Regions from separate parts of the Homo sapiens genome. Here region 2 is linked to region 1. The links come from fine-mapping of genetic effects on gene expression. A gene starts in region 1. The other region holds a variant in brackets. All regions are shown on one strand. Distances are between the middles of the regions.

Region 1 (2,500 bases):
AAGTGCCCTCAATAAAGTCCAACTTCCTTGGGACAGCATGCCCAGCCCTTCATGGTCCGGTCCCTATTTACATCTTTTTTTTTTTTTTTTTTTAAGACAGAGCCTCGCTCTGTTGTCCAAGCTGGAGTGCAGTGGCACGATCTCAGCTCACTGCAACCTCTGCCTCCCGGGTTCTAAGGGATTCTCCTGCCTTAGGCTCCAGAGTAGCTGGGATTACAGGCGCACACCACCATGCGCGGCTAATTTTGTATTTTTAGTAGAGACGGGGTTTCACCATGTTGGCCAGGCTGGTCTCGAACTCCTGACCTCAGGTGATCCACCAGCCTCGGCCTCCCAAAGTGCTGGGATTACAGGCGTGAGCCACCACGCCCGGCCAAATGCCTGTTTTTCAAAGGTCCTGTCCTCTCTCTTGCCTCTGAAACTTGCTGTTATCTTTGCCTTCCCTGTGCCTGGCTAAGAACTCCTGTTCTTCAGGTCCTAACTAAGATGTCCCCTCCTTCGCTGACTCCTCAGGTGGAGTTCGGTGCCTCTTCTCTGTGCTCCCCTAACACTCTGAGCTCTGACACGGAGAGAACTTCGGTCACTGGGAAGGGTGACCCGATCAACCCCACGGCCCCAGCCCCTCAACACTTCCTCGAACACAGTAACCTGCTTGAGAGATTAAGTGAGAAGTCTGTTTTAACAGGTTGCATCCTTCTCCTTGCAACCCCTGGCGCCCCACGTCGCAGTAGCAACCGCAGGCCCCGCTCAGAGGCTGGGGGAGGGGAGGCGGGCAACCAGTCGTGCAGGACTCTTCCCCCAGAAAAGATGAGGAAGGGACGGGGCAGGGAAGAGCTTTGGGTTCTCGGCAAGAAAATGTATCCTTGCAGCCGTCTCCATCAGATTCAGCCTCCCCGCTCCGACGCACCCTCCCCTCTAGGAGTCCCACTCAAACTCTCCACATCAGACTTCCTCAGAATCTTCCCATCAAGATTACCTCACGCTTCCCCCACGCGATCCCCTCTTGGTCTCAGCCTCGATCTCCCTTCCTCGCAGCCTCCTCCCTCAGCCTCGACTTCCCCCTCGCAGCCTCCTCTCCGAGCCTCTCCCCAGCGCCTCAGCCTCCCGCAGCCTCCCATCGGCGCTCCAGCCTCAGCCTCCAGGTTCCCGGTCCGGCCCGGCCTGGCCCCGCCCCCGCCGCGAGGACGGTGCTCACCGTCGTAGTAGTAACAGACTTTCCTCCGGGTGCCCTGCGTCTGCGCCATCTTGCTCGCCTCCCGTCCCTACCGTCAGTCGGTCCGTCCGCCCTCCCGCCCGCGGCTCCGCTCAGCGTCCGACCCAGGGGGGAGGGGGCGGGCCTCCGGCCCGCCCCGCCCGTCCCCTCCTGGGCTCACCTATAGCCGCGCAGCCCGGGCACCGCTCCAGCCAATCAGCTTGCGCAGACACGGGCCCGGAACTCGGCAGGGGGCAAGGGCAGCCCGGAGAGGCCGCCGAGGGCCCCCTGGGCCTGTACCAAGGTCTGCGACAGATGGGTGGGGAGCCGCCCGGGGACCGTACCATCAGTCCCGGGGGAGGAAAGCAGCTCTGTAAACTTAACAGTCCCACTTCGTCGTGAAAAGCGTGCTTGGAGATCGGAGGCCAACTTTCTGATTTTACGGAGAATAAACCGAGGCCTACAGGGGAAAAGTGACTTGCACAAGGTCACTCAGCCAATAAAAGGGCTGAACCTGGGTTAGAAAGCGAGTTTGTGGCCGCAAAGGAGGGCTACAGAAAAATAATTAAAAAGAAAAGCAACACGCGGGTTTGGAGAGGAAGAAACCGACAAGAAAGGGAAAGAAAGCTAATGTTTGTCGAGGGGCTGCTGTGTGCCAAGTACTGTGCGACACTTTACCAATGTTATTTCAGTTTTTCCTCAAAACAGCTCTCGGCCAAGGGCTTTTTACCTCCATTTTACAGGACAGGATAAAGAAGTTCAGACTTCTGTGAATTATTCAAAGTTACACAAAGTAATTAAATTCAATTTTTTAATTGTACAGGGTTTTTAAAATGCTTTCTTTGCACCAGAGGCACTGTAACAAAGTGACAGAACCCAGCCTTTCAGACTCCAAAATCTACCTCCCTGATGCAGTCACCCAGGATGACTAAGTAGGCGTCTCTTTAGACAGGAGGAAATGGGATTATCCTATGATAGGAGGGCAGGTTTCCTTTCTTTTCTTTCCCTGTTTTTTTTTTTTTTTTTTTTTTTGAGACAAGAGTTTCGCTCTAGTTGCCCAGGCTGGAGTGCAATGGTGTGATCTCGGCTCACCACAATCTCTGCCTCTGTGTTCAAGCGGTTCTCCTGCCTCAGCCTCCCGAGTAGCTGGGATTACAAGCATGTGCCACCATGCCCGGCTAATTTTGTATTTTTGGTAGAGACTGGGTTTCTCCGTGTTGGTCCAGGTGGTCTCGAACTCCTGACCTCAGGATCCGCCCACCTCGGCCTCCCAATATGCTGAGATTACGGGCGTGAGCCACAGCGCCC
Region 2 (3,008 bases), 430 kb before region 1:
CTTTTGCTGGGCTCGGTGTCTCACCCCTGTAATCCCAGCACTTTGGGAGTCTCAGGAAGGTGGATCACAAGGTCAAGAGTTCAAGACCATCCTGGCCAACATAGTGAAACCCTCTCTCTATTAAAAATACAAAAATTAGCTGAATGTGGTGGCGCATGCCTGTAATCCCAGCTATTTGGGAGGCTGAGGCAGGAGAATCGCTTGAACATGGGAGGTGGAGGTTGTAGTGAGCCAAGATCATGCAATTGCACTCCAGCCTGGGCAACGAGAGCAACTCTGTCTCAAAAGAAAAAAAAAAAGGCCGGGCCTGGTGGCTCACGCCTGTAATCCCAGCACTTTGGGAGACCGAGGCGGGCAAATCACGAGATCAGGAGATCGAGACCATCCTGGCTAACACGGTGAAACCCTGTCTCTACTAATAATACAAAAAATTAGCCGGGCGTGGTGGTGGGCGCCTGCAGTCCCAGCTACTCGGGAGGTTGAGGAAGGAGAATGGCGCGAACCTGGAAGGCGGAGCTTGCAGTGAGCCGAGATCGCGCCCCTGCACTCCAGCCTGGACGACAGAGCGAGACTCCGTCTCAAAAAACAAAAAACAAAACAAAACACTCTACCTTTAAAAGGGAGAGTGGGAAGAAGAGATTAGAGAAGGAATTGTCCAAAAGATAGAAGGGAAACCAGCAGGGTGATATTTGAGATGAAGAAAAGAGTTCCAAGAAGATGCTGGGCATGGTGGCTCGGGTCTGTAATCCCAGCACTTTGGGAGGCCAAGGTGGGCAGATCACCTGAGGTCAGGAGTTCAAGACCAGCCTGGACAACATGGTGAAACCCCATCTCTACTAAAAATTTAAAAATTAGCCAAGTGGTGCGCACCTGTGATCCCAGCTACTTGGGAGGCTGAAGCAGGAGAATCGCTTGAACCTGGGAGGCAGAGGTTGCAGTGAGCCGAGATCACACCATTGCACTCCAACCTGGGCGACAGAGAGAGCCTCCGTCTCAAAAACAAAAGCTCCATGAAGGTCCAGAAGGACCAGGTCAACCATGCTTACTGTCCCTGACAGCTTAAGCTGTCAGGGTGAGGGATTAGGCAATAGAGGACAACCTTCCAGAGAGAGTGGGCACCAAGGAGTTAGTAACAGATCCAGTGGAGTGGGAGATGGGGAAGTGGAGGTGGTTGGCTGGGAAGAGGAGGAGAGGAAAGGGAAGGAA[G/A]GGAGCGTCATGTGGGTATGCAGCCCAGGAGGGCAAGACAAATGGGTTTGGGCTGGCCTGGAAATACTGGGGCTAGGATGTATGCAGGTGGGAAGAGGAAGGGGTGAGCTTTCCTCCTCCCACCTGGTCATTTTAGGTTGACTAGACAGACAAGGACACCCTCAACCTAGCTCTTCCTTGACAGTCTCGGAAGTGTCCCACTTCCTTCATCCCATCCCCATCTTGCAGGCCAAGGCACACTATTCTCATCCCTCCTTCCCTCTCCCTTCCTGCCCCCATGGCTCCCCTGAGGTTTTTCGGAACCAGCCACTCCCACCCCCAGTCTGCTGTCTCACCCTCCCTGGCCCAGCCTGGTGAGACAGGCAGGGAGGAGTTTCCAGGCAGGAAAGCGCTGAGTCACTCACCAACACATCTGGTCTCAGATCTTGATACCCAGCTGGAAGGGGCAGGAAGGAAGAGGGCTCCTCCCCACAAGCTCTCCTGGCCAGTCCCCACCATTGCCAGCTGTGTGGGGCAGTCTGGGAGAGGAGCGCCTCTGCCACTGTAACAACTAGCCTTTGCTGGACTGCCTCGCCCACTCCAGCTGGGGTGCTTCACTTCTGTGATTGCCTTTAATGCTCCGAACAGCCCTGGGAAGTAGGGCCGATCACCTCCAATTCACAGGTGAGGAGACTAAGTGGCTTGCACGAGGTCACGCAGATTTGGCGCGCTGGTGCATTGGTGTCCCCGTCCTATGCTCTGGGCACACAGGAGGGAGTGATGTAAAGAGACAGTGAATGAAGTTGTCCAGGGGCTCAAGCATACCAGTAGGCAGACTGCGCCCATCCTCCTGCCAAAATGGCCCCTTCTCAAAGTCCCAGTGGAGAGAGGGCCATCCTTCCTGCCCCACTCTGTGCCCTGCCCATTTGTTGCTGGCTCTGTTTGGAGTCCCCCACACCCCTCATTCCCCAGCCTCTTTCATTGTCTTCTCCCTCCTCCCCACTGAGAGGAATAGCAGTGGCTTTGGCAGGAGGCGTTCCCATTGTCCTGAGTGGAGAGGGGCATTCAGGTCCTGAGAGGGCAGGGCAGATCATGCCAGGGCCTGTCACCTCTTCCCAGGCTGCAAAGCAGCCTTCTTGGGGCCCAGGCTGGTTTTTTATACAACATGCAGTGTGACATTGGGCAAGTCACTTCACTCCCCACAGGATGGGTTATTGCACATACATCATACAGGAGAGCGTGCAAATCACTGTTCTTCTCTAGGCCAGACTAGCCCCAATAGTAATTTTTTTTTTTTTTTGAGACGGAGTCTCACTCTGTCACCCAGGCTGGAGTGCAGTGGCGTGATCTTGGCTCACTACAACCTCCGCCTCCTGGGTTCAAGCAATTCTCTGCCTCAGCCTCCCGAGAGCTAGGATTACAGGAGCCTGCCACCACGCCCAGCTAATTTTTGTGTTTTTAATAGAGATGGGATTTCACCACCTTGGCCAGGCTGGTCTTGAACTCCTGACCTCGTGATCCATCCACCTCGGCCTCCCAAAGTGCTGGGATTACAGGCATGAGCCACCGCACCTGGGCTTTTTTTTTTTTTCCTGAGACAGAGTTTTGCTCTTGTTGCCCAGGCTGGAGCACGATCTCAGCTCACTGCAACCTCTGCGTTCCGGGTTCAAGCGATTCTCCTGCCTCAGCCTCCCAAGTAGCTGGAATTACAGGTGTGCACCACCATGCCCGGCTAATTTTGCCTTTTTTTTTTTTTTTTGAGACGGAGTTTTGCTCTTGTTGCCCAGTGCAATGGCACAATCTCGGCTCACTACAACCTCCGC

Alleles and levels. Positions count from the first base shown, and alleles are read on the strand shown. Sizes are in standard deviations (SD) of each study's normalised expression.
For the expression in gastroesophageal junction of the gene that starts at base 1,331 in region 1, A is the high allele of the variant in region 2 and G is the other (moderate effect, 0.48 SD a copy in GTEx).

What was found. PIP is the estimated chance that this variant, and not a neighbour inherited with it, causes the effect. A credible set is the group of variants that fine-mapping cannot tell apart.
Region 2: its variant is the best candidate, but not a certain one, in a credible set for the expression of HDAC1 in gastroesophageal junction (GTEx, PIP 0.83).

The regions. Positions count from the first base shown.
Region 1 is chr1:32,290,914-32,293,413 of GRCh38, reverse strand. HDAC1 (histone deacetylase 1) reads right to left here and starts at 1,331. Exons shown (of 14, transcript NM_004964.3): 1 at 1,196-1,331. The coding sequence starts at 1,244. RefSeq lists enhancers at 1-466, 538-597 and a silencer at 1,208-1,617.
Region 2 is chr1:32,723,939-32,726,946 of GRCh38, reverse strand. No RefSeq gene overlaps it. Among named protein-coding and RNA genes, the nearest start is that of NHSL3, 16 kb to the left of the region's middle. RefSeq lists enhancers at 1,425-1,719, 1,828-2,656. The variant G/A (reference allele first, on the strand shown) is at 1,207.